Linked DNA regions of Homo sapiens: regions 2, 3 and 4 are each reported to be linked to region 1. The links are microRNA targets in miRTarBase. Many come from high-throughput screens and were not tested one by one. Region 1 holds a microRNA gene; each other region holds the end of a gene's coding sequence.

Region 1 (7,121 bases):
GAATCCATAAAAACACATCTGTAAACCCCCAATTTTAGTGACTGGAGCTTTGCATGGTTCATTAGCACATACTCCTTTGCCCAACTGTGACATCACTTATCAGCAGACCTTCTCCTTTCATATTCCCCAGCAGCTGAGGCCAGTGCTCCATGAGGACATTTTCTGAAATCAATGCAGTCACAGATTTCTTCCCACAGGTGCAGGAGAAGCTTATTAGGTGAATATCTTTCATGGAGTTCTGTCACCTACACTCTTGTTTCTCTTTTAAAGTAAGGGTTAGTAACTATAAATAAGTAGGTGCCAATTCATGGGGAGAGACTGGTGTGCTGCATGCAAGTGATTAGCTGTAAGGAAAGGGCTAAGTCTCAGATCTGCACTCTAGACCTGTGATGTCCAACAGAATTACAATGTAAGTCACAAATGCAAGTTACATTTAAAATTTTAAATTTTCTACTAACCACAAGAAGAAAAAATTAACAGATAAAATCAGTTTTAGTTAATAGAAATGATTTAATTACCAATATATCTAAAACATTCTTTTAACATGTAATCAGTATAAAATTATTAATGTGATTTTTAATATTTTATACTGTTTTCAAAATCCCATGTGTATTTTATACTTGCAGCACACCTCAATTTGGACTTGCCACATTTCAAGTGCTCAGTATGTCCATGTGGAGAGTGGTTACCAAATTGGATAGTGCCCTTCAGGGGAGCTGGACTGGGAAATGACAAAGTTCTATAAAAGACCAAGACACTGTTATGGATGTTTGTCATTTTGGGGTACCTAGCATCTTTTGAACACTCTTTCTGTCCTGGGGTAGCTTGCATATTATGAGTCTCATTTCATGAAGATACGAGGGAGAACTCAATTTCTCAGATTCCCTTTCAGCTAATGCATTGGAAGGTAACGCATGCTTGACCAGTCAGAAACAACCATATGAGATTTGAATTGTAAACAGAAAAAAATGAAGAACATGGCCCTGTATACGTGGAATTAATTTTCTGGCAAGGCTGATGGTGAAGGTATCCAGCTTTCATGGGCACCAATTGGGGTGATCTGATATCTAGTACTCAGAATCCATAAATACATGGTATAATATACTTCAAGTATGGCCAGCAGCAGAGACAGTAGGGGCCTTGCTGGCACCATTCCAAACAAACACGGAAAAAGAAAACTAAAAAAACTCCACATGTTAACTTAGTGCCCTGGCTTTTTAACTTCTTGTTGTTTCTCTTTATGTCTTATTGTACTGTCTATGTCTTGAAAAGTTGTTGTAGCTGTTATCTTTGATTGGTTCATCGTTTATTCTTTCTACTTTAGTCAAGATAAGTTTATACATCACAACTACAAAGTTATACTATTCTGTGTTTTTCTGTGTGCTTACTATGGTAATAATGAGTTTTATATCTTCAGATGATATCTTGTTGCTCAATAACATCATTTTCTTTCAGATTGAAGAACTCTCTCTAGCCTTTCTTATAGGATAGGTATGGTATTGAAATCCCTCAGGTTTTATTTGTCTGAGAATGTCTTTATTTCTCCTTCAGGCTTAAAGGATATTTTCTCAAGATATACTAATCTAAGATAAGAGTTTTATTCTTTCAGCACTTTAAATATCTCATGCCACTCTCTCCTGACCTGTAAGGTTTGCACTGAAAAGTCTGCTGCCAGACCTATTGGAGCTCCACTGTGTGTTGTTTCTTTTCTCTTGCTGCTTTTAGAATCTTTCTTTATCCTTGGCCACTGGGAGTTTGATTATTAAATGCCTTGGGGTAGTCTTCTTTAGGTTAAATCTGCCTGGTGTTCTATAACTTCTTCTACTTGAATGTTGATATCTTTCTCTAGGTTTGGGAAATTCTCTGATACTATCCCTTTGAATAAACTTTCTATCCCTATCTCTTTCTCTACCTCCTCTTTAAAGCCAATAACTCTTAGATTTGTCCTTTTCAGGCTACTTTCTAAATCTTGTAGGCATGCTTCATTCTTTTTTATTCTTTTTCCCTTTTGTCTCCTCTGACTGTGTATTTTCAAATAGCCTGTCTCTAGGCTCACTAATTCTTTCTTCTGCTTGATCAATTCTGCTATTAAGAGACTCTGATAAATTCTTCAGCATGTCAACTACAGTTTTCAATTCTAGAATTTCTGATTGATTCTATTTAATTATTTCAATCTCTTTGTTAAATTTACCTGATAAAATATTGAATTCCTTCTCTGTGTTATCTTAAGTTTCTTTGAGTTTCGTCAAAACAGCTATTTTGAATTCTCTGTCTGAAACGTCATATATATCTATCTCTCTGGGATTGATCCCTGGTACCTCATTTAGTTCATTTGGTGAAGTAATGTTTTCCTGAATGATGTTGGCACTTGTAGAAGTTCTTTGGCATCTGGGCATTAAAGAGTTATGTATTTATTGTGGTCTTCACAGTCTGGGCTTATTTGTGCCTGTCTTTCTTGGGAAGGTTTTCTAGGTATTCAAAGGGACTTGGGCCCCAAGCCCAATAATACGGTGGGTTTTGTACACTCATAGAGGTACTGCTGTGGTGGTTGTGGGTAAGATCCAGAAGAATGCTCTGGATTACCAGGCAGAAACCCTTGTTCTTTTCCCTTACTTTCCCCAAAACACATGGAGTCTCTCTCTCTCTGTGCCGAACCACCTGGAACTGGGGGGTGTAGTGATGCAATCACCCCTGTGGCCACCACCACTGGGACTGTGCTGGGTCAGACCCAAAGCCAGCACAGCAATGGGCCTTGCCCAAGGCCCTTCCCGTCAGGGTAGTGAGTTCTTGTAGGCTCCAGGTGTGTCCAGAGATGCTGTCTGGGAGCCAGAAGTTGGAGTCAAAAACCTTAGAAACTTATGTGATGTTCTATTCTACGGAAGCTAAGTTGAGGGAAAGGAAGTAAAGTGGAGGGAAAAATAGGAAGGACTTTGCATGGTACTGAACCACAATACAAAGTCCCTCCTATTCTTCCCTCCCCTTTCCACAAGATGTAAGACAAAGTACCCTTTAACTTTGATCTCCTCTCCTTAAACGGAAAGAAACAGTCACTTCCATTGCTACAAGCTGCAATCCTGGGTTTGGGGGAGGGATGACTTCTCTTTACTCTCCCATAGCTGTGCCAGCTGGTGTCTCCCTAGGTCATGTTCCACTCCTAGTTCACTGGCTTGAAGCCCAGCCTAGCACTAGGAGTTGCCTAGGAATTGCAGTCTTTGTGTCCTAGACTGTCTTTCAAGTTTACCTAGGACCCCAGAGCACTTTAGCCCTAAGTGGTGAGGTTTGCACAGAAACTCAAGTTTGGACCACTGGGATGGGTGACCCCCCTCTGGCTAGGGCTGGTCCAGATGCTCCCATTGTGCACAGGCAATGGCTGAGCTCAATACAGCTTTATTCTCCACTGTAACAGGGCAGCACTGAGTTCAATGTAAAGTCGCCCAGCAGCTGTGCTCTCCCTCCCCAAAGTGCTCAAGTTCTCTCTCTGCACTGCATGGCCACTGCTAGGGGATGGAGGTGAGGTGGTGTCAGTGATTCTAAAGTATCTCTTCTGCCCTCCTCAATGCCTCTGTCGTTAAATCCAAGTACTGTGAATATGACGTTAAATCCAAGTACTGTGATTGCACACTTGATTGTTGGTTTTTGTGATGGGGCTTTTCTGTGTACAGATAGTTGTTAAGATTTGGTGTTCAAGCCAGAGGGACAAACAGTGAAGGCTTCTATCCCAACCATCTTGCTCCACCTCCCTAGATCTTATTTAAACCTTTTATTTTAATTGGCTTTTTTTTTTTTGACACTGCTCTGGCAGGGTATAAGTGAGGGCACTGCTTTGTTTCTGCCAGGTGGATGTCAAAGTCCAGGTTGCCCATTCAGCCTTCATTCACACCAAAGGGAGGCTCCTCATTATTGCTGAGCAGGTGGGTAAGTTCCACATCTCCAGAGTCTCAACTAATACTGCAGTGAAGTGGGAGGGTGTTCCCTCAATATCAACCAATGGGGATGAAGTGCAGGCTCTCTACTTGGACACCATCCTGGCAAGGATGTTGCAGGAGCACATTAGAGTTTCATGAGGGTAAGTCCAGGCTCCCTACTCAGCCTTTGTTTGTGTGAGAAATAGGACACAAATTTTTTATGACATTTGGCTAGGGTGGAGTGGTTATTGTGTAAAACCTTTCTGTCTTGCTAGATTGGTCCTTTATTGTTCTCCTTGGCTAGAGAAAACTGGCTTTTGTTGGGGTCTTTTGTGTTTGTATTCATTGAGATTTCCAGGTTTCCAGCTTCTTCAGCGCCAAGTTTGGGATATTAAAGACAAGAAGAAAACCCAGGGAACTCACCATCATGTTGTTCCTTGGGTTCTTGGCTGACTTCTTTTCAACCTCTGAGTCTTCTTACATGTTTTTTATATATAATATTTAGAGTTTTTAGTTACCCTTAATAGGAGGAATAGGGGAAAGTATATTTACTCTGTCTTTTTGGCAGTAGAAGTAGGTGTCATTGCCTTTTAAAATACTGAATATACATTCTTTATTATCTATATCCCCCTGGTAGAAAGTGAACCTCAAAAGGGCATGCTTTTTGTATGGCCATAGTAACTTATTGAATGAATTTATAAAGCCACAAATGCGTGCTATTGGAAAATACATCATTTTTAAGTTTTATTTTTTAAATTGGTGCTGAACCAGTGGGAGGAGGTCTGAAGGTCAATAGGAATGAAGGAAAGGTCTACATAAGAATTACAAGTAGGAGACAAAATTAATATTAAATATAACCAGATGGTAGTGAAACAGAATTTACAGAGCTCAACTGAGGGAAGGTAATGGTACAATACAGCTAGGATTACCCACTCTTGGAAACAGATCTAATTTAGTCTCCTTCATGATAAGCAAGCACTAAATAAAGCATGAGAAAAAGGAGGCATGCTTCATATTAGCTTTTTGGGTAGTAGAAAAAGTTTGGTCCCCTTAAACTGTCACCAACCTGTCTGCCTAAATACCTTTTTATTGTCTTCCCTTCTAATCACTCTCTCTCCAGCATTGAAAACAATGCTCAAATATCAACCTGTCTTCAAGGCACCAATAAATAAGCATGAGACATACTTTTCCCACCAAGCCCACAAGGTAAAAAAATTTTAAAAGGCAGTGATTAGGACACATTAAATTAAAAGTTGTGATACATCTTGTCCCTTACTTATCCTTATTTTTCCCATGCCAGGAAAAGTCTGCTCCCAAACTGTAAATTAAAAGAAAAGGAACATCTTTATTTCTACCTTCATTTCGTTATGTACCCAGTAGTCACTCAGGAGCAGGTTGTTCAGTCTCTATGTAGTTGAGCGGTTTTGAGTGAGATTCTTAATCCTGAGTTCTAGTTCGATTGCACTGGGGTCTGAGAGACAGTTTGTTATAATTTCTGTTCTTTTACATTTGCTGAGGAGAGCTTTACTTCCAAGTATGTGGCCAATTTTGGAATAGGCGTGGTGCTGAAAAAAATGTATATTCTGTTGATTTGGGGTGGAGAGCTCTGTAGATGTCTATTAGGTCTGCTTGGTGCAGAGCTGAGTTCAATTCCTGGGTATCCTTGTTGACTTTCTGTCTCGTTGATCTGTCTAATGTTGACAGTGGGGTGTTACAGTCTCCCATTATTAATGTGTGGGAGTCTAAGCCTCTTTGTAGGTCACTCAGGACTTGCTTTATGAATCTGGGTGCTCCTGTATTGGGTGCATATATATTTAAACCACTGCTCAAGGAAATAAAAGAGGATACAAACAAATGGAAGAACATTCCATGCTCATGGGTAGGAAGAATCAATATCGTGAAAATGGCCATACTGCCCAAGGTAATTTATAGATTCAATGCCATCCCCATCAAGCTACCAATGACTTTCTTCACAGAATTGGAAAAAACTACTTTAAAGTTCATATGGAACCAAAAAAGAGTCCGCATCACCAAGGCAATCCTAAGCCAAAAGAACAAAGCTGGAGGCATCATGCTACCTGACTTCAAACTATACTACAAGGCTACAGTAACCAAAACAGCATGCTACTGGTACCAAAACAGAGATATAGATCAATGGAACAGAATAGAGCCCTCAGAAATAATGCCACATATCTACAGCTATCTGATCTTTGACAAACCTGAGAAAAACAAGCAATCGGGAAAGGATTCCCTATTTAATAAATGGTGCTGGGAAAACTGGCTAGCCATATGTAGAAAGCTGAAACTGGATCCCTTCCTTACGCCTTATACAAAAATCAATTCAAGATGGATTAAAGACTTAAACATTAGACCTAAAACCATAAAAACCCTAGAAGAAAATCTAGGCATTACCATTCAGGACATAGGCATGGGCAAGGACTTCATGTCTAAAACACCAAAAGCAATGGCAACAAAAGCCAAAATTGACAAATGGGATCTAATTAAACTCAAGAGCTTCTGCACAGCAAAAGAAACTACCATCAGAGTGAACAGGCAACCTACAAAATGGGAGAAAATTTTCGCAACCTACTCATCTGACAAAGGGCTAATATCCAGAATCTACAATGAACTCTAACAAATTTACAAGAAAAAAACAAACAACCCCATCAAAAAGTGGGCAAAGGACATGAACAGACACTTCTCAAAAGAAGACATTTATGCAGCCAAAAAACACATGAAAAAATGCTCACGATCACTGGCCATCAGAGAAATGCAAATCAAAACCACAATGAGATACCATCTCACACCAGTTAGAATGGCAATCATTAAAAAGTCAGGAAACAACAGGTGCTGGAGAGGATGTGAAGAAATAGGAACACTTTCACACTGTTGGTGGGACTGTAAACTAGTTCAACCATTGTAGAAGTCAGTGTGGCGATTCCTCAGGGATCTAGAACTAGAAATACCATTTGACCCAGCCATCCCATTACTGGGTATATACCCAAAGGACTATAAATCATGCTGCTATAAAGACACATGCACACGTATGTTTATTGCGGCATTATTCACAATAGCAAAGACTTGGAACCAACCCAAATGTCCAACAATGATAGACTGGATTAAGAAAATGTGGCACATATACACCATGGAATACTATGCAGCCATAAAAATGATGAGTTCATGTCCTTTGTAGGGACATGGATAAAATTGGAAATC
Region 2 (7,121 bases), not on the chromosome of region 1:
GACCCTCTGCTATTTGTTTTTCACCCATCTTCTTGTTTTAATGCCCTTATCAACTATGGTAGTGCTCTGTAATTTGTCAGAAAACTGACTCCTCTGTCATGGGTATATTCGTCTATATATCTTCAGCTATCAAGAGCTTAATATTTATCCTATTCTTTAATTTGGGTTTTTGGGTTTCCCAACATATTTTGCTCCTCAAATTAATATTTTTCAGATCCTCAAAAGAAAGATTCAGAGACCAAGACTTAGCATCATGTGACAGAGACAGGAGTTCAAGAGACAGATCACCTCGTGACAGAGATCGGAAAGATAAGAAGCGGTCCTATGAGAGTGCTAATGGCAGATCAGAAGACAGGAGGAGCTCTGAAGAGCGCGAAGCAGGGGAGATCTAACTAGCTGTGTACATTTCTTCAGTCCTTAAGCTTCCTACGGAGTTACGTACTATTGTTTAGTTCACAGCTGTTCAGGGTGACAGTGAGCAGATCCAGACACCAGATCCAGCTAGGCTAGATGTACAGTATCTAACTTGATCTGAACTGAACCTGTTTTCCTTGATGATGCCTAAAACTACATCCATAGTTTCTGGTGAACCTGTAATACAGTTCTGAAAGTACAGTTTTATATAATAAGATGCTGATCTCTTTATTCTTTCAAGTAAGAGTGCTAGTGAACAAATTGTGTTACTTGCCTTGGGATTTTTTGAACGTTTGTAAAATGCTGTCTTCCTAGTCCAAACAGCTGCAGCTTTGGGCATTTTTCTTTTTAATTATTCTTCCTCTGACTTTGTATCCCTTAATACCTACACTCTCCAATTGTAAGAGAAAGGGGGCAGGGAAGCAATATAGCTTCCATTCTAAGGCTGTATTCCCGTTATGAATTACTAGCTGATTACAGTTCAGAGCATTGATCCTGGAATGTGTGCTGGAGAAATTTAAAATACTGGGGTTTTTTGTTTAATGGTGCCTATTTAGAGTTGGAAGTTGAACAGCTGTTGCATTACATACTTTTGCTTTTTTATTGAAATTTTGAAATCAAACGTCTTGATTTTTCTGTTCTGTTGAATTGCTATGTTCAGGATGTTCTAGGGGGTGGGGGCAGGGACTCTTTTCGTAATAAGCACTTGTTTTATTTTGTGTGTGTGGAGTATAAAGGCTACACCCTTATTGTAAAAAAATAATAATAATAAAATGAAAGAAACAATCACCACCACCATTATTAAACTGTAACTTGTCTAGTAAATTGTCACTAGAACTATTTGCTGTGGGCATTTCCTCTATTCTGTTACGTCATTAACAGTGCCTTACTGTGCAAGGCACCAAAGGACATAAATACGTACTTGCAAAGATTCCAGATGAGCTGTTCATGTGGGCCCCTTGCTGACTATATTCCAGCCACTTCAGGGTTGTTTGTAATGACCGTTATAGAGAAGGGCTCGACCTGCAGAAGAAACTGGGGTGTTTTTATTCTCATTCAACAAACCCAAATAAAAACAGTATATGTAACCAACATAATGAGACTTAAGTTTCTGCCTTGAAGAGTTGTATATCCGTTAGTAACTTAAACTGTAATTGGCAGGTATCACTTGTGATTCTGGAAATTCTGAGGAACACAGATTCCTTAAGTAATGAAATTAGTATCTGTGGGTATCATTAACTAAGGTCACCTTTCAAGAACTGTTAATGTCCTTTGTCCCCAAGTTTGACAGATTTGATGTCAGAGGCATGTGGGCCTCTGTGAAGGTGCTGAGAGAATGGGAAACTAAGGCCATTCTAAGTGATACCAGATTACGTTAAAAACCCTCATCAAGTTCCCAATTTACCAAGCTATGCCTCATTAACTGAGGGTTTTCTGCTGTATTTGGTTCCACACATGCAATTTATATGGCATTTAATCTGAGAGACCCATCTGCCTCAGTGGCCCATTTCCCTTTTATTTTTGGTTGCTAAGAAATGTTTTGTATCTCCTTTGTTCCGGGTAGTCTGTGCTGTTCTAAATCCTTACAAGCACTTCAGATTTCGTACATTGGGGTTCGGAGTAAGATCAAAAGGACTAGCTGGTTGGTGTGAGGAAGAATGTCTGGGACCTGGCCCATTATAATAGTATATCTGGACTTAGATTTTGAACTCTAAAGCATATGTACAGTTGGAATGGAACACTTGTAGAAGTAACACAGGTCTATATATCAATGGTTACTGCAGCTGTGGTTTCTAGATGGTATAGGCTGCCCCAACATGAACAGGGCATAAAGCGCACCATCACTGTGGGGCTGCGTGCCACAGCGGACCACTTCAACCGCATGGCTCTTTACATGATTGATGCCACTGAATTAGAATAAAATCTCAAATCTTAATATCACTTTCTCATACACAATTTTTGGTCTTTCTGTGTTGGTGACTGGTAGAAAGCATAAGTAAGTATATTGTATTTGCAAAAAACTTTTGTCCCTCTGGGGAGTGTTTTGCTAAGTTTTTACCTTCAGTAAGGTTTCCTTCATTTTGCTGTCATCAAGTATTACCCTAAAGCTCCTTTGCTGAGCTTATCAACACCAACTAAAACTAAGGAAAAAAGCCTCCTTAAATAGGTATGTTTTTTATTTTTTTGAGACGGAGTTTCACTCTTGTTGCCCAGGCTGGAGTGCAATGGTGCAATCTCAGCTCACTGCAACTTCCGCCTCCTGGGTTCAAGCAATTCTTCTGCCTCAGCCTCCCGAGTAGCTGGGATTATAGACGTGCACCACCACGTCCGGCTAATTTTTGTATTTTTAGTAGAGACGGGGTTTCGCCGTGTTGCCCAGGCTGGTCTTGAACTGCTGGCCTCAGGTGATAGGCCCGCCTCGGCCTCCCAAAGTGCTGGGAGTATAAGGCATGAGCAACCCCTCCCTGCCCTACCCCTGCCAGGCTTGTTTTTTTTTTTTTTTTTTTTGTTTTTTGTTTTTTTTTTGTTTTTTTTTTTGTTTTTTTTTTTTTTGAGACGGAGTCTCGCTCTGTCGCCCAGGCCGGACTGCGGACTGCAGTGGCGCAATCTCGGCTCACTGCAAGCTCCGCTTCCCGGGTTCACGCCATTCTCCTGCCTCAGCCTCCCGAGTAGCTGGGACTACAGGCGCCCGCCACCGCGCCCGGCTAATTTTTTGTATTTTTTTTTAGTAGAGACGGGGTTTCACCTTGTTAGCCAGGATGGTCTCGATCTCCTGACCTCATGATCCACCCGCCTCGGCCTCCCAAAGTGCTGGGATTACAGGCGTGAGCCACCGCGCCCGGCCCAGGCTTGTTTTTTAAACAAAGACTTTCTTACCTGTGATTATTAGACCTAAAACCAATATACCTTTATCTTTTCCAAGTTCCCTCTTTCCCCTCCATGTTACATTTTAAGCATCTATTTTTAGTGATAGCTTTCAACATTGGCCTTTTGAGCCATCGCCCAGTATGCATTACAATTTCCACAAACACTTTTGCCATTTGATGTCGTAAATTCTTTCAAAATGGTTTTTAGGTAATGATTATGTACATCATTTAAGTTTTTCCGAATAAATGCTGATTATAATTGTTAAATGTTCATAGGTTTTTTTTTTTTTTTTTTTTTTTTTTTTAATGTAAGGTCTTCCTGTGTCACCAAGCTAGAGCACAGTGGCATGATCTTAGCTCACTGCAACCTCAATGTCCTGGGCACAAGTGATCTTCCCACTTCACCCTCCCAAGGAGCTGGGATTATAGGCACGTACCACCATGCCCAGCTAATTAAAAAAAAAAAATGTGTAGAGGCCGGATATGGTGACTCATGCCTGTAATCTCAGCATTTTGGGAGGCCGAGGCAGGCAGATCACTTGAGGTCAGGAGTTCAAGACCAGCCTGGCCAACATGGTGAAACCCCATCTCTACTGAAAAAAAAAAAAAATTAGCCAGGTATGGTAGCACACACCTGTAGTCTCAGCTATTCGGGAGGCTTAAGGCACGAGAATCGTTTGAACCCGGGAGGCAGAGGCTGCAGTGAGCCGAGATCGCACTCCAGTCTGGGCAACAGTGTGAGACTTCATCTCAAAAAACAAAACAAAATTACCGGGCATGGTGGCACATGCCTGTAATCCCAGCTACTCCAGAGACTGAGGCAGGAGAATCACTTGAACCCTGGAGGGGTTGCAGTGAGCCGAGATGGTGCCACTGCACCCCAGCCTGGGCGACAAGAGTAAAACTCCCATCTCAAAAAAAAAAAAAAAAAAAAAAAATTGTAGAGATGGAGTCTTGCTTTATTGCCCAGGCTGGTCTACAACTCCTGGGCTCAAGCAATTCTCCCACCTCAGCCTCCCAAGGTGCTGAGATTACAGACATGAGCCACCACATCCAGCCCATTTATGGATTTTTTAGCTTTAAAAATCTAAGTAAATATTACATATTTTTAAAAAAAAACCCACATGCCTAATGTGGATGTTCAGCTTTTACGGCTATCCCACTTGTGAAACCATTGAAACATGTCCCTTCAAGTGGTAAATTAGCTGCTGCCCTGGGCTAGTTGAGTGCCTGCCGCCAACGCAAGACCAGCAAGCACAGCCAGGAACGTCCAGAATTAGTTCACTACCACATGCTGTACTGACTTAAATAGTTTGAAACACATTCTTGTCTGTTTTGTATCTGAAAAAGCAGAAGCTATTTGATGTAATAATGATTTTCTTTCAAAAATGGTTTTTAGGTAATGGTTATCTACCTTTAAGTTTTTTCAAATAAATGCTATGGGGTTTGTTTTTTGTTTTTCTTTCTTTTTTTTTTTTTTTTTTTTTTAAGACAGGGTCTCACTGTGTTGCCCAGGCTGGCGTGCAGTGGCGCAATCTCGGCTCACTACAGCCTCAACATCCTGGGCTCAGGCGATCTTTTCACCTCAGGCCCCTGAGTAGCTGGGACGACAGGTGTGTACCACCATGCCTGACTAGTTTTAGTAGAGACAGGGTTTCATTGTGTTGGCAAAGCTGATCTCCAACTCCTGAGCCCCAGCGATCTGCCTGCATCAGCCTCCTAGAGTGCTGGGACTACAGGTGTATGCCACTGCGCCCAGCCTACATCACGATTTTATTATATCTTGACTGTTGATAATTAAAATTTCCTGGGATATAAATAAGGCAATATGAAGTTGCCCTTTCTCAGTATTTTTCTTTGTACTGCCTGTTATTTGAAAAAGCATTTTCTCCCTCAGGGGAGTTAGGAAAGGTTAGAGAGCTGAGAGAACAGGGTTTCCCTGGGCAGAGGCCGAGTAGGGGAGAGCAGGCAGGGGTCTGTCAGCAGAGTAGTACTGGGGCCATGCATGAGTGGGGCCTTGGGGGCTCTAGGGTCAGCAGGCAGCACACTGGCATGTTCTCCAGGTAGCAGCAGAAACATTAGGGTGTTAGAGGTTTGGGGTCTGCAGGCATATCTGGGGATCAGAACAAGCTAATGGCCAGCATTGGCTGAAGCAAGGCTTTGAGACTCACAGAATTGGGCTGTCAGTCAAGCAGGGATCTAAGAGATGGGGCCAGCCAAGCAGAAGTCAAAGGCTGGTGCCAGCATCAAAATCTGCTCTGATGCTCCTTTGGGAGACTGATTCTTCAAGTCTCAAATGCTGTTCACACCTGTCTCTGGATGCTGTTGGCTACCTGTAAAAGAAAATACATTCAAATGGGCTTAAACTCTGAAGGGACCTTAGCAGCTCGTGTGATTGAGTTGCATGCCAGCTCCATATCTTGGACTAGCATCTGAGCCCTATATCCATATGAAGAGAAACCATTTCATCTTGTGTCTCTTAAGAGCAAGGCAACTTTTCCCAGAACCTCTCGCAACCTTTTTCTCACATCTCTGTCCCTGGCACAGAGACCTACATAGACGATGCCCGATGAATGTGGAATGAATGAATGAAGTGCCTCATGTTTTCCAACATAAATTAACTCACACGATCTCATTTGATTTGTATAGCAATCCTGTGGTTACTCGAAGGGACCATATTCTATCACCATCATGCCCGTTTTTCGGAGTAGGAAGCTGAGGCATGCTGAGTGACTAATAGGACAGAGTCAGCCGACACCTTTTTGATTCTAAGTGAAAGGCTCTTTCTGGCATAAAGTATTGTGACAGGTAGGATTCAGCTGGGAGTGGCAAGAAGGGAGGGAGCAACAGAAATGTCCATTACAAAAAAGACTGAAATGAATGAAGCAGGATGATAACTGCAAGTACTGTCCCATTTCCAGCACCTTTTATTCTAGTCTCATGGTATCTCTCAAGCTGATTGTAACAGATAAAAAACCGATAGTTATCCAAATAACATGGTATATAGGAGTTACCATTTTTTGTTTTTTGTTTTCAGACAGGGTCTCACCATGTTGCCCAGGCTGGGGTGCAGTGGTGCACATGGCTTTCTATAGTTTTGACCTCCTGGACTCAAGTAATCCTCCTGCCTCAGCCTCCTGAATAGCCCTGCCCCCACCCACCACCCTCCCACTCAGCTAATTTTTTAAAAAATTTTTTAAATTTTTTTTTGCAGAGATGGGATCACACTATGTTTCCCAGGCTGGTCTCAAACCCCTGAGCTCAAGTGATCCTCCCACCTTGGCTTCCCAAAGTGCTGGGAGTATAGGTATGAGCTACCCTGCCTGGCCAGTTACATTTTTTGATTTCTTGATATTTTTGTTCAGAAAGTTTAATTTACTTGAAATCAATATGACAATCTACTAGGTAATGAAACACAAAGGAGACTGAAGAGATGATAATCAGTAAAAGGGCTTGAACTCTGATTGGATCTTTGTTTAAAAGGCTGGAATAATGAGAAATTAGGATATGGATTGAATATGAATTTATTGTTAATTTTATTAGGTATAATGGTGGAATTGCCATTACATAGAAGAATATTCTTAGGAGATAAGTGCTAAAGTATTTAAGGATGAAGCATCTGGATGTCTGCAGCTTACTTTTAAATAGTTCAACAATTTGATAAACACATAAAGAGCGGGTGTAACAAATTGTTCACTGTTAGATCTAAGTAGATCACTGGTTTTTCAACTTTTGTGTATTTTTGAAAATTTTCACAAAGTTAGGGGGAGGAACTCTTAGATTTTCCATTTAAATAATCACTTTAGGCCAGGCGTGGTGGCTTACGCCTGTAATCCCAGG
Region 3 (7,121 bases), not on the chromosome of region 1:
TTAGTACCATGAAAGAAAAATATAGGATTCTGTTAAAGCATGTTCCAGGTGGCTCTGACCTGGACCTTAAAGTCAAAGAAGATTTCTGTGCAGAAAAATGACATTTGACTGAAGCCTAAAGAAATTAGCCAGACATAGTGGGCAGTGGAAATCTTTATATGGATACTGTTAAGGATTGTGTCTTTGCAGACATTATATTATTTAATTCTTGCAGCAGCTCATTAAAGAAGTTCAGTTGGCCTGGCGCGGTGGCTCACGCCTGTAATCCCAGCACTTTGGGAGGCCGAGGCAGGCGGATCACGAGGTCAGGAGATCGAGACCATCCTGGCTAACATGGTGAAACCCCGTCTCTAGTAAAAATACAAAAAAATCAGCCGGGTGTGGTGGCGGGCGCCTGTAGTCCCAGCTACTCGGGAGGCTGAGGCAGGAGAATGGTGTAAACCCGGGAGGCAGAGCTTGCAGTGAGCCGAGATTGCGCCACTGAACTCCAGCCTGGGAGACAGCGAGACTCTGTCTCAAAAAAAAAAAAAAAAAAAAGAAATTCAGTTGAGTCAACTGATATTTAGAAGGACATAACAAATTATTCAAGAAGCTAAAGCTTAAGCCTAAGATATTCTAGAATCTAGTACTGTTTGTGCTATTTGAAACGTGTGAAGTTTGAAGTGGTCTTCTGTTACACCTGTTTTTTGTTTTTTTGTTGTTGTTGTTTTTGGTTTTTTGTTTGTTTGTTTTGCTTTGTTTTGTTTTGTTTTATTCTCTTTACAGTGCGGAAGGCAGTCATGTGTCAGGACAGAGCAACGGCCGGGATCCTCAGGCCTTGGCTAAGGCTGTGCAAATCCACCATGATACCCAGCACACGATGTATTTTGCCTGAGAGTCTCAGAAAAAGAACTCAACCAATTTGGCACCCCATGCAGCCTCAAAATGTTTCAAATGCCTACCGCCTCTAGATCGAGCCACGTTGACTTCAGGTGGTCTTCTACCAGCAGCTCGGAATAGTTGCACTGAATCTATACTTTGCAGCACTGTCTGATGCGTCAACAAAATTGAGCCATTTTTTTAAAGTAATAGATACTAATAGATTATCTTTTCTGATGCACTGGACTGAATTTTTACCTCAATGTGCAAAGGCTGATCAGCCTGAACTTTCTAAAGGACTTTACAAGAAGGGTTTCTATGGAATATTTTGCTAGCTGTGGTGTTCACCGCATCCCTCTAGTCTTAGAAGAGAAGATTATTCCTTTTTTCTGTAGTCATTGAGTGGGGTATATGCATAAGTGGGAGAGAAAAACCAAACAATCTACTTCAGTTCAGTGTAACTATTTAATTGTGTGGGTCCATAGACTTTTTAATGAAGATTTCTGACTTTGCCACTGTAAATGCCTTTAATGAGCATTAATTTTTGAAAGTTTTACAGAGTTTTATTAGTTTTACTACTTTATCTTATTGATCTCTGCAGACTTGTGCTGGTGCAAGTACATGCTGACAGGCAATTTGCACTATATTTGGCTGCAGATTCAAATAGGCAGTTCTCTTATTTGGTCGACTTTTGTGAATGTGTGACATAAACAGATGTAATGCATGTCACAGTGACGGAGATAACACTGCCATGATAAAAGTACTCATGTTTCCCCTATTTGGAAAAAAAAATTGCTTTTAGTATTTTTCCAAGTTTTCAAAAGTGCCCATTTTATGCTGCTGTGTGGTTTGTTAAATCTAAATGATTTTTAAACTTTTCTCATAGAAACTTAACTTTGGCAATAAACATTTTTTAAGGTCTCTCCTCTTCCTTCCCCAACAATGTAGTTTTCTAGATGAGATTTCAGTATGATTTTATCAGCTATTTCTTATATATCATAATCTGGCAATTTCTGAAACCAGTCAGAAAAGACATATATTTCCATGCCTTTTTAAAGAATTATTTTTACCTGTTTTATATTCACAGTTGGTGTCCTGTCACTTTGTTTTAAAATAAGCTAGAACCAGGATGCTTCCTTATTGGAAAGGCTTTGCCAGTCCTTAAGGTACAATGAGTGATGCTGCAACTTGCAAATGTACCAGCATTTAAAATTTCTTTTCCTGGGAATCAAGGTAACTCACACGACTACTTGCAGTACAAATTTTTTGCTTCTCTTTCGACATGAAATGTACTTGGTGGGTTTTCCTTCCTTTTATTAAACTAAAACTGTGTGGAAAAGGTTGATTTTTCTTAATAGATTCTGGATTCCACTCACAGGGAGATGGGATTCCTTTCTTGTCCAAACAAAGGGAGTTGCTCTAAAGCGAGCATCAGTTAAAATGTAGGGGAAAATGTATTCTGTATGTAGTGTAGATAATACTTTGTGAATGGACAACAGTTACATAGTGTCTTGGTAGCACCAGCCAGTGTTTCCCAGCCCAGAGTTTACTGACTTGTAATTCTCTATCCAGGACATCAGGAGTGAGGGATGGAAAAGGGGATAAAAGGCCTGGAGCCACACTCTATATGGCTGAGGAAGGAGCTAGGGAAAGAGATAGACACAATGGGGTGAAAACAATTTTGCCGCCCCTGCCTGGAAACTGCTGGTGGGGAAATGATGGTGAAGGGTGTTTGCTTGAACTCATGAGACGGTCCAAATCTCATAAACTAGCCTTCTCAAAATCCCAGCAATATAAAGCACTGTTTTTCTTCAGTCGTTTAAATAAACTTGTAAATACATTGAAGTTTACATTTCCATGTGCTGTTGATCAACGGCGCCACCTGTGTTTGCTGAGACTGGTCTCTGAGAGAGTTTTATGTCGATCGAGGCCTGTTGCTCATTAAGCTGAGTGCAGACGTCCTTAATCCCTGCAGATAGTGGGATGAAAGCAAGTTCTGTAAAATGAAGCACAACATAGCCAGGAGTGAAGAGATGGCAGATGTTAATTTCTTAAAATTTTCCTTTTTTTTTTTTTTTTTTGCAAATACCTCACTTGGATAATACAAATCAGGACATGTTGGTGAGGGGCTGGCTGCTTGGCTGCTGCTTTTATTCACACTTGTTCAGGGAGAGCACAGAGAATACCCTTCAGCATGGCCACTCTGGACCCAAGAGGAGGAAAAAACGGAAGCTTTTTTAGGAGAAGGAGGACTTGCTGGAATCCAAGATGTGAAGAACTCTTGGTGACTGGCTGGCTGGCCAGCGGGCACCACACCTGCACTTGAGTGCCTCGGGCTTGCTTATTAATAACGCACAGAAGAAGCATCACTTCTCACCATCTCCTGGCATGTATGGAGCAGGGAGCAAGGCTATGTTCCCGAAAGCCCTGATTAGCTTGTCTTGCTCTACGCTCGACCTCGAACAATACAGCTTGTAAGACCTCAGTCAGTCCTGGTACACTGGGGTAAATCAGTGTGGTGGTGGAAGAAAAGCCGGGAGGCCTATTTTTATAGGAAAATAGTACCATTAAAGGTGCAATGCTGTCATTTTGGACAAAAGGAAAGAAATTTGGAAGAGCTGGGATTATTGGCAAAAACTTGCTGAGGGGTGAATCTTTAGAGCTAATCACTGCAGAATCAGAGTTGCAGCAATATGATTGCAAGCAAGTCTGAATGCATAGTTTTACTTTAATTCGGCTTGACAATTTGAATAGGTAACCCCCTCGGGACTGACTGAATCGTTATGCATGTGTCAATCAATGGGAGGTGTGCATTCTCTAGAAGTAGTTTTAGGCTGTTTGGTTTGGTTTTGGTTTTGTTTTTTAAATGCAGCCTGTTGAGGCACTGTCATGTGGTGTGAAAGATTTAAATGTAGCAACGCTAAAGAGTAATAATTTGGGGATAAGAAGTGGGGACATTGGCCGGGCGCGGTGGCTCACGCCTGTAATTCCAGCACTTTGGGAGGCCTAGGTGGGCGGATCAGCTGAGGTCGAGAGTTCGAGGCCAGTCTGACCAACATGGTGAAACCCCATCTCTACTAAAAATACAGAAAATTAGCTGGGTCTGGTGGTGGATGCCTGTAATCCCAGCTACTCGGGAGGCTGAGGCAGGAGAATTGCTTGAACCCAGGAGGTGGACGGTGCAGTGAGCTATTACTCCAGCCTGGGCAACAAGAGCGAAACTCTGTCTCAAAAAAAAAAAGGGGGGGGGGGGACATTAAGAGAGTGGTGATGACCCAAATGTTGAACCAATTATGTTTTGGTGGTGGTGTTCTTAGCTGTTGAATCCTGAATGGTTTATAAAGTGAACTAGCTGGCTTAATGCAGCCAGCGTTCTGGGCAGCAGAACATATTCATTCTTACTGTAAATTCTATTTGCTGCTTCCAAAGGTGATGATTTTCAAGCAGACATGTTCTATATGGTCTGTGTTTTAGGATCTGGTGCCCAGCCTCTATCAGAGCTTGCCTACCTGGCAAAGCTGCCTACCCTTCAAGTGGGAAAATATAATCCACTGTTTAACAAGGCTCACCCTCTCCACCCTGTCCTAACGACCTTTTGTGAATGTGCTGTGATATTTTCTTGCTCAATAGCAAGGTGGTAGCTCTGCTTTCATTTTAAGAAAGTGGAGGCTGAGGGCATTGTATCAATACTGTTGCAACTCCAAGAAGTTTTCCTTGTAAAATTAAAGGAAAGATCTTGTTATTGATTAACCATTTTCTTATGCCTTGCTATTGACATATTCATGCTCTTTCTACGTCTAGTGGCTGAAAATGTTTGCATTTGTTCATTTGACTAATGGTGTGATTTTTGTTTCTATATTATTAGACCTGTAATGTTTTAAAATGTATTTTATTAAATTTGGACTGGATGTATGTCTCTAGCAATACGAGGTACTTTCTAAACTATTAAGGGAGGGGTTGTATCCTCATGTTGAGATAAGATGATGGTCGTTTAAATTTTGCAATTTTTTTTGGCCTGCAGGGATATTTTGTGTTTATGTGTCCAAAAAAGGAATAAATTGGCATTCTTGTGCCAAAAGTTGTTTTTCCTGTCAATTGTCTAATAAGTATGCAGTACACTGTAATGGCAACATACATGGTTGCTTTATAAAAACAGTTTCCTCAGTATGAGAAATTTTACAAAGAACAGTGGAAAAACTTTGTGTTTTTAACTCTTGGGTCTCCCTATTTTTAAAAATTGCTATTTGGTATACAATTATTATGTGTCAATTAAAACTAAAATAAAACTTTTAAAAAAGAAATTTCTATTTGAGAATTTTAGAAGAGCTTTTCAGCAACACTTCACTTATGAAAACTTTTACAAAATTGATCAGAGTTCTGGATATGGCTCTTAATGGGAAGATCTATTTAAGCAATGCTTGAGAAGAATCTGCAGTCTCCAGAGGGCAGTGTGGCCACACACTTTATAAGACTTAACTTCTCCAGAGGAGAAGCTGCTCAAATTCATCCAACCTGGGGCTATCCAGTCTCATCTTTAGAAAAATTCTCACCAGCAAGTCCTTTTGCTAAGTCATGGCAGGGACAATTCCTTAGGGAATTTATAGTTTGCCAGAGGAGAAAGTTCTGCATATAACTCTACTAGAAGGCGGTTGTTTTTTCCATCTGTATACTATCTCCACCATATTTATCAGTTATCAAACATTTATCATGAACTGGGTACATGCCATGTACTGCCTAGGTGCTGGGAACACAGAAGAGTAAAAAATTATTCAAAGAATTCATTCTAATTTGGCATGAGATGGAGGAAGAGGCAGCGAGATTAACACTGAGTGCCTACTATATGTCAGTCACTATATTTATTTATTTATTTATTTATTTATTTATTTATTTATTTATTTTTGAGACGGAGTCTTGCTCTGTCGCCCAGGTGCAGTGGCGCAATCTCGGCTCACTGCAAGCTCCTCCTCCTGGGTTCACGCCATTCTCCTGCTTCAGCCTCCCTGGTAGCTGGGACTACAGGGGCCCACCACCACGCCCGGCTAATTTTTTGTATTTTTAGTAGATTTGGGGTTTCACCGTGTTAGCCAGGGTGGTCTCAATTTCCTGACCTCATGATCCGCCCATCTTGGCGTCCCAAAGTGCTGGGATTATAGGCGTGAGCCACCATGCCCGGCCTATTTTTTTTATTTTATTATTATTTTTTAAACACAGGGTCTCACTCTGTCACCCAGGCTGGAGTGCAGTAGCACAATCATAGCTCCCTGCAGCCTTGACCTCCCAGGCTCAAGCAATCCTGCCACCTCAGCCTGCTGAGTAGCAGGGACTACAGGAGGTGCGCATCACCATGCCCTGCTAATTTTTGTATTTTTTTGTAGAGATGGTGTTTTGCCATGTTGCCCAGGCTGGTCTCAAACTCCTGAGCTCAAGCGATCCTCCCGCCTTGACCTCTCAAAATGCTGAGATTATAGCTGTGAGCCACCGCACCAGGTCTGTCAGTCACTTTCTATTGATATCTTTATCCCAGGAACAGAGTGTTGCTGGGCATTGTATCAATACTGCTTCAACTCCAAGAATTTTTCCTTGTAAAATTAAAGGAAAGATCTTGTTATTGATTAGTCATTTTATAGTCAGAAACCATGGGGTAGTTGGAAAATAGAAAAAAACAGTGTTGCTGGGATAAAGATATCAATAAAAAGTGACTGATAGGCTGGGTCAAATGCTTTCCCTTACTCCTTCTTTGGGAGATAGGATCCCTCTTTATTATAGAAAATTTGTTGTTGTTATTATTATTATTATTGAGATGGAATCTCACTCTGTCACCCAGGCTAGAGTGCAATGGCGAAATTTTGGCTCACTGCAACCTCCGCCTCCCCAGGTTCAAGCGATTCTCCTGTCTCAGCCTCCCAAGTGGCTGGGATTACAGGTGTGTGCCACCACACCCAGCTAATTTTTGTATTTTTAGTAGAGACGGGGTTTCACCATGTTGGCCAGGCTGGTCTCCAACTCCTGACCTCAGGTGATCCACCCACCTCAGTCTCCCTATGTGCTGGGATTACAGGCATGAGCCACCGCACCCAGCCAGAACCCTCATTATTTCGTATGATTCACGTGTGTCCAAATGGCCTTATTCCCACCTCACCCCCCACCACTTGTGTCATACTCATGTCCATCCCTGAATTTCTCGGGGATGTGTTACATCAGTCAGGAATGGCTTGTGGGCCCACTCCACCGTCCTAGGGGGACGGTGGCCAGTAAGTAGGGGA
Region 4 (7,121 bases), not on the chromosome of region 1:
CCTGAAGAACATAGTGAGACCTCATCTCTAATAAAAAAAAAAATTTTTTTTTTTAGATGAAGTTTCGCTCTGTAGCTCAGGCTAGAGTGCCATAGTGCAATCTGGGCTCATCGCAGCCTCAGCCTCCCGGGTTCAAGCGATTCTCCTCCTTCAGCCTCCCAAGTAGCTGGAATTACAGGCATGTGCCACTCCACCCGGCTAATTTTTTGTATTTTTAGTAGACACGGGGTTTCACCATGTTGGCCAGGCTGGTCTAGAACTCCAGACCTCTGGTAATCCGCCTGCCTCAGTCTCCCAAAGTGCTAAGATTAGAGGCATGAGTCACAGGGCCTGGCCTAAAATTTTTTAAAAATCATGACCAGGCGTGGTGGCTCACGCCTATAATCCTAGCACTTTGGGAGGCCGAGGTGGGCGGATCACATGAGGTCAGGAGTTCGAGACCAGCCTGGCCAACATAGCAAAACCCCGTGTCTACTAAAAATACAAAAATTAGCTAGGTATGGTGGTGCATGCCTGTAATCCCTGCTACTTGGGAGGCTGAGGCAGAAGAATCGCTTGAACCTAGGAGATGGAGGTTGCAGTGAGCTGAGAGCGCACCACTACACTCCAGCCTGGGCAACAGAGCGAGACTCCGTCTCCAAAAAAAAAAAAAAAAAAAATTAAAATTCAGCTGGATGTGGTGGCGGTTGCCTGTAGTCCCAGCTACTCAGGAAGCTGAGGTGGGAGGATTGTTGACTACAGCAGTTTGAGGCTGCAGTGAGCCATGACTATGCCACTGCACTCCTGCTTGGGCAACAGAGCAAGACCCCGTCTCAAAAAAAAAAAAAAAAAAAAATTAAAGAAAGGGACAATTTCTGAACACAGACATAGACAAATCAATGCCCTAGTCTGTTCTAGATTGAGGGGACAAGGAAGGGAGTTTGGAGAAATCTAGTGTTTTCCCTCTTCCTTTATCTTTTCTCTCCCCGTAATAGGATATGGATAAACTGGATGCCAGCAGTGATGAAGATCAGGATGGTAAATCCTCCAGTGAGGAGGAGGAAGAAAAGGCCCTTAGTGCGAAACACAAAGGCAAAATGCCCTTGAGAGGACCACTGCAGAGAAAACGAGCCTATGTGGAAATAGAATACGAGCAGGAGACAGAGCCCGTGGCCAAAGCCAAAACCACGTGATTTCCCTTTCAGCATTTATACCCAGGACTGAACATGCAGAACTGTTTTTTTTTTTTTTTTATCTTAAACACATACACACCTCCAGTTTTTGCTCTTTTGTGTTGTACTGAACACAATATTTGTGTTTTTATTATTTATGCCACGTCAGTGGGGCAAGAAATCTGGAGTGAGTGAAGAAAGCTAAGTTGTGAACAAGAGTGTTTTTATAGCATATGTGTTGAAGTAACAGCTTGTGCCCGAGAAACTTAACAGATGAGTTCTTGAATCTGGGATGAGATGACGGATGTAAATATTTCTAAATTTTAAATGCTACATTACTTGGTGTCCTTTTTTCTCCCAAACTTTATTTAGAAATGGAAGGAGTTCAATTTTTTCTTGTTCTACTTTCCCTATTCTTATGGAGGTAAAAGGAAAGGAAGGAAGGAAAAAGCAGCTTTCACTTACAAAGTTTCGTGTAAAAATATCTTTTTTTCTTAAATAACTCCATTCATACAAATTGGGATGGGAAGAAAATCCTTTCCTCTTGGGAAAGTAATACAAGTCTTAAGTTCCATTGTAGGGTGCGCCTTCAGAAACCTGCTGCACTTTTCTGATATAGTTCACCACTTTTCTGTCTTCACAGCTTTGGGGAATTTTGGCCAGGAGACCCTGAAACATGAAACCAAACAGGCTTTGATATTTTTTTTTTTTTAATTACTTTCCCCTTTTGCTTGATTCTTCTTCCTTGGTATCATATTCAAAGGAGGAAAGAATGGATGACACTTAGGGACAGGTCACTAAGCAGAATAGGTATTAGTTGGTTTTTTATTATTTTTAAATTTATATAGCTCTCATGTATTGAAGGTGCTACTTTAAAAACTGTGTTAATGTACTTGCAAATCTCCTGCTGGCTCATGAAACAGCAGAATTCCAGCCAAGGCAAATTCAGTTGGATCTAGGGCTTGAAAACTGCCCAAGATTAAAGAGCTAAGATGAAATAGTTTGAATAAACTGGTAAAATAACAATTCATACTATCTCTACATATTTTTAGGATATGAATTTTTTTTTCCTGCTGGGTAGATTGTCCAGTGACTTATGGCATGAATTTCTTTTCATGCTACCTTCAATCTTCAACTAAAGATTTCTAAAAGGGGTAAGAAATGAGGCAGTAGTTTATTAAATACATAGAAGTACACAGCTATTATATGCTGTGGCTTTGAGAAGTTAACTTTTGTGGAATATGAAACCAAAGGAAGAATTTCCATGTAGATAAATTAAGAATAGGGAAAAACATCTACCTAAAAGATGGTTGTCCCTAAAAAACTGGAAACATCTGAAATGCTCTATTTATGTTATTATTCCTGGGAGCTTATAGCCCATTATTTTTACTTTTTTTTTTTAATTCAGAAGACTAGAACAGAACTTAAATTTTACAAACTTTTGATCATAATGCTTTTGCCCATACTGTCTCGTCCTTAGCCCCAGTGACATGTGCTGATCCTCCTGCCTTTAGTTCTAAATGGTTCTGAATAGCTTTAAAAGATGAATAAGAAAAAAGATCAAGCTCTTTTGAGGCTAGAGGGCTCATATGGAGATCTAAAACCCTCCATGTTCATTTCCAGACTTGGTCAGGCACATACATAGTAAATTATAATCAATCATGGGAATTACATAAGGATAATGAGGCCCAACTGAAACCAAGTTTCAGTCTGCCTTACCTTTACCCGTCCTTGAGAACAGCGGTCCAGGAGAATCAGGCAGTCTGTGGCCTCCTGTAGCAGGGCGCTCTTAACAGACTCAGGTGTAAGGTTTGGATCCCTTGCTACATCACAAATCAGTTTCAAGAGGGCCTTCAGTAAGACCACAAGTCTGCAGGAAACTCTGGAATCAGGAAGAAAAGCTATGTTCATACTCTAAATCTGGATATTAAAATTGGAAGAGACTTCAAAGACTGTCAAGTGGAAAGCTATCATTTCCTAAATTAAGGAACTTAGGTCAAAGTTAAATGAAAAAGACCTAAAAACAGAACCAAAGACAGCCTCTAGATTTCTTACCCTCAAGTCTCCTGTTAGCATACTGCCTATACACACAGACACACCCTCTGCCACACTGCTCTCTTCCTTCCAGAAGCTTGGTTCTACTGTAAGCAACAGCTCCTTCATGGGCTGAGAAGGGGAAACCAGGATCTCCCCAACCAAGGGCCTATACTTTTATTTTTCAACTCTATTAACTGAACTATGCTTGGAGAGAGCCCTGAATCCTTTAACTTTAATGCCATCTTAGGCCTGGAAGTTAGAGTGAGGGAAATGAGCTTGGCTTCTGGGACTGTGTCAAGTTGAATTTTCTGTCATTTAATTTCAGATCCTAGCTCATCATCAGTGAAGTCCAGCCTACTTACTTGTAACTATTAACCTTTCTAAAAGTTTTCATCGCCTTGGTAAAGCTCCAGAAATGGACAATGCTAGTGACTGCACAATATTGTGACTGTACTTAATGCCACTGAACTGTACACTTTAAAATGGAAAATTTATATGTATTTTTACCACAATAAACAAAAAACCCTAAAAAAACTTTAATGAAAGGTGGAAAATAATTTAACTTACAATGTGAAAATACAATGTGAAATGTACAATAAATCATATTTATGGACAGATGCGTGACTGGGAGAAAAAAGTTTTCATCTCTATCTAAATACTCCTCATTTTCCTATGGTTTGGGTGCCTCTCAGCCCTCGTTATTCAACTTATAATCGGCTCTGTTTTCCATTTCCCATGCTTCACCCCCTCATACGCATACACACATATTCCTTTTCTACCTCCCTACATTTATTCACTCTCCCTTCTTGGAATCTTGGTCTCTGCTCTTTAAAGACCTGACAATCTGATTCGATTTTATTCATCCATTGATTCATTCTCTTCCAGTCCATTCATTCTTTGAATATTTGTATACCTAATACTAGGTACTGAACATACTTTGGGAGAATATAATAGATGTGGTTTTCCGTTATCCTGGAGATTATAATTCCGTAGGGAGAAAGATAGTAAACAAATGCAACCTAGTTACCAATATGACTAAGGGAAAGGTTGTCATGGGGAAATGTTACTCTGGATTCCTTGCACATTTATAAGGAAGTGAGAGAATACGGTGCAGAATAGCTACTGTATGTTGTTGGGGCACTAGATTCTCTGGCTGAATTCAATTTTCAGCTATGCAAGAGATGCTTCTGCTGACTCCACAGTTTGGGTTCCAGTTCCTGACACCTACCTCAAGCCAGAGTTGGAATGATTTCCAAGCAAGTATATCCTACATTAGTATGCTTTTTTTAAATTTTTATTATTTTTTTTTATATTTTGAGACAGAGTCTCGCTCCGTCACCCAGTCTGGAGTGCAGTGGTTCCATTGCACCTCACTGCAACCTCTGCCTCCTGGGTCCAAGTGATTCTACTGCTTCAGCCTCCTGAGTAGCTGGGACTACAGGTGCGCGCCACCATGCCCGGCTAAGTTTTGTATATTTAGTAAAGACGGGGTTTCACCATATTGGCCAGGCTGGTCTTGAACTCCTGACCTTAGGTGATCCACCAGCCTTGCCCTCCCAAAGTGCTGGGATTACAGGCGTGAGCCACCGCACCTGGCCTCTAGATTGGTATTCTGATCACTGCTCTGCAGATGTTAAATGATGTGCTATGAAGTACTCTATTCTCAATTAGATTTAAAGAACATTAGGATTAACAAAGTTAAGCAAATGTTTTATTGCAACACTTCTAAATGACCTTTAATCTTCTAATATGCATTCTAAATCTAGAGAGAGGTACAACCTGTATGGTTTCCCAACCTATTTGACCACAGAATTTTTTTTTTTTTCCTGTGGGGCATCAAAGAGTACCTAGATGGAGATTCTGCAAAACACCAATCTAAACCATTCTTAAGATATATAGCCAGGCACAGTGGCCCACGCCTATAATCCCAGCACTTTAGGAGGCTGAGGAGGGGAAATCACGAGGTCAGGAGTTCGAGACCAGCCTGGCCAACATGGTGAAACACCATCTCTACTAAAAATTTTTTAAAAATTAGCCAGGCATGGTGGAGGGCACCTGTAATCCCAGCTACTCAGGAGGCTAAGGCAGGAGAATCACTTGAATCCAGGAGGCAGAGGTTGCAGTGAGCTGAGATCGCGCCATTGCACTCCGGCCTGGGTGACAGAGCAATACTCCATCTCAAAAACAAAAACAAAAACAAAAGGCTGGGCATGGTGGCTCACGCCTGTAACCCCAGCACTTTGGGAGGCCAAGGCGGGTGGATTACAAGGTCAGGAGTTCAAGACCAGCCTGGCCAACATAGTGAAACCCCATCTCTACTGAAAATACAAAAAATTAGCCGGGCCTGGCGGTGGGCGCCTGTAATCCCAGCTACTTGGGAGACTGAGGTAGGAGAATCACTTGAACCCAGGAGGCAGAGGTTGCAGTGGGCAGAGATCGCGCCACTGGACTCCAGCCTGGGCGACAGTGTGAGACTCCATTTCAAAAAAAAAAAAAAAAAAAACAAAAAAGATATACTAGAGTTTCAAAGAGAAGCGATTTAACTGTCAGAATCTGGAACTGATACCTGGTAAAAGAGTCAACTATGAGCACCTCAAGTAACTATAGTATATTTTATCTTTCTAATGCCATTTTCTCAGTTTAAAATCCTATAGGTGTGTGAAAATGGGAGGTATTCAAATACATAGTATACATTTAATACTTTGTACTGAATGTATTAAATACATCCAAGCAAGTTCTCAAGAGAAAATCGGCTGAGTTTTGCACCTTAAGGCTGCTATTACCTGGGCCAAGTATGTTGCATGAGAAGTTTTAGGGTTTCCAATATCTTCAGTCTAGCTTCCTCCTCAGGTCCATCATAAACCTCCAGATAACCAATGATGACTCTCTCCAGCCTCTTTAAGTGCCGGACAGTTAGGATCCCCAACCTAAAGATGAAAGAGAAAATATGACGCCAGTGCAGTGGCTCATGCCTGTAATCCCAGTACTTTGGGAGGCTGAGGTGGGAGGATTGCTTGAGGCCAGGAGCTCGAGAGCAGCTCAAGCAACATAGCAAGATCCTGTCTGTATAAAATAATAATAAATAAAAGCCCAGGGCCTCACCTGTTCACGAAAGCCGGCAGGTTTCTTGCGTAGGTCCTGCGTAAAAGAAGGCGGTGCTCTGGCTCCATGTGGGTCAGGATCAGCCGCAGGACCTCATCACAATGGGTGGTGGGTCGAGCTCCATCTCCTTTCCAGTGCAGGGTTTTCTCCAGGATGGGGAATAAATCCAGCAGACACAGGAGCACAGCCTAGGAGGAAGGAATGGAAGGACGGTGCATAGTTCATCCATTTGCATTTACAATACTCACTGACTTCTCTAGAACTTCATTAATCTACCGTCCTTAGGGTCCATACCAGAGAATTCTAAGATACTAGTAATCATATATGAACTGCACATTACTTTACATTTTCAAACTTTTTTACATTCTTAATCTCCATCTGACAGTCTCAAATCAATACATTCTCCTCAGGACCATTCTTTGCTAATTTATAAAATCGGAAAAATGGCAGAGCTGGGACTTTAATCCAGATTTTAGGAATCTAAGTCTACTGTTACTATGTCACTAAGTCTAAGTGACTTAGTGATACATGATATTTACACATTTTTTTTTTTTTTTTTTTTTTTTTGTGAGACAGAGTCACTCTGTCACCTAGGCTGAAGGACAGTGGTGCAATCTTGGCTCACTGCAACCTCCGCTTCTCAGGCTCAAGCGATTCTCGTGCCTCAGCCACCTAACTAGTTGGGACTACAGGTGTGCACCACCACACTTGGCTAACTTTTCTATTTTTTAGTAGAGACAAAGTTTCACCATCCTGGCCTCAAGTGATCCACTCGCCTTGGCTTCCTAAAGTGCTAGGATTTATCCCTAGGCCAGGGGTATCCAATCTTTT

The links. Region 1 holds the annotated microRNA hsa-miR-6507-5p (GAAGAAUAGGAGGGACUUUGU, at 2,953-2,973, opposite strand). A microRNA usually pairs through its seed, bases 2 to 8, with sites in the 3' UTR of a target mRNA and lowers its output. Matches are read on the target gene's strand: a 7mer-m8 pairs with bases 2 to 8, a 7mer-A1 pairs with bases 2 to 7 and ends in A, and an 8mer does both.
Region 2: the mRNA of LUC7L2 is a reported target of hsa-miR-6507-5p. Seed matches in the 3' UTR shown: 7mer-m8 at 644-650 and 7mer-m8 at 768-774.
Region 3: miRTarBase lists AGO4 as a target of hsa-miR-6507-5p. Seed matches in the 3' UTR shown: 7mer-A1 at 4,253-4,259.
Region 4: miRTarBase lists MAK16 as a target of hsa-miR-6507-5p. Seed matches in the 3' UTR shown: 8mer at 1,563-1,570.

What each region holds. Positions count from the first base shown.
Region 1 is chr10:98,921,591-98,928,711 of GRCh38, forward strand. MIR6507 (microRNA 6507) reads right to left here and starts at 2,978; the gene lies at 2,909-2,978. All of the region lies in intron 3 of HPSE2 (heparanase 2 (inactive)), which reads right to left.
Region 2 is chr7:139,421,949-139,429,069 of GRCh38, forward strand. LUC7L2 (LUC7 like 2, pre-mRNA splicing factor) reads left to right here. Exons shown (of 10, transcript NM_016019.5): 10 at 215-1,506. The coding sequence ends at 392. FMC1-LUC7L2 (FMC1-LUC7L2 readthrough) reads left to right here. Exons shown (of 11, transcript NM_001244584.3): 11 at 215-1,506. The coding sequence ends at 392. It overlaps LOC100129148 (a long non-coding RNA gene), which reads right to left and starts at 5,578. Exons shown (of 3, transcript NR_033999.1): 1 at 5,453-5,578; 2 at 1,337-1,437. It also overlaps a transcript of KLRG2 not described here. RefSeq lists an enhancer at 4,820-5,456.
Region 3 is chr1:35,852,732-35,859,852 of GRCh38, forward strand. It overlaps AGO4 (argonaute RISC component 4), which reads left to right. Exons shown (of 18, transcript NM_017629.4): 18 at 766-5,159. The coding sequence ends at 874. Among named protein-coding and RNA genes, the nearest start is that of AGO1, 27 kb to the right of the region's middle.
Region 4 is chr8:33,497,458-33,504,578 of GRCh38, forward strand. It overlaps MAK16 (MAK16 homolog), which reads left to right. Exons shown (of 10, transcript NM_032509.4): 10 at 975-3,805. The coding sequence ends at 1,172. It overlaps TTI2 (TELO2 interacting protein 2), which reads right to left. Exons shown (of 8, transcript NM_001102401.4): 5 at 6,291-6,478; 6 at 5,972-6,115; 7 at 2,871-3,033; 8 at 1,265-1,820. The coding sequence ends at 1,716. Among named protein-coding and RNA genes, the nearest start is that of TTI2, 12 kb to the right of the region's middle.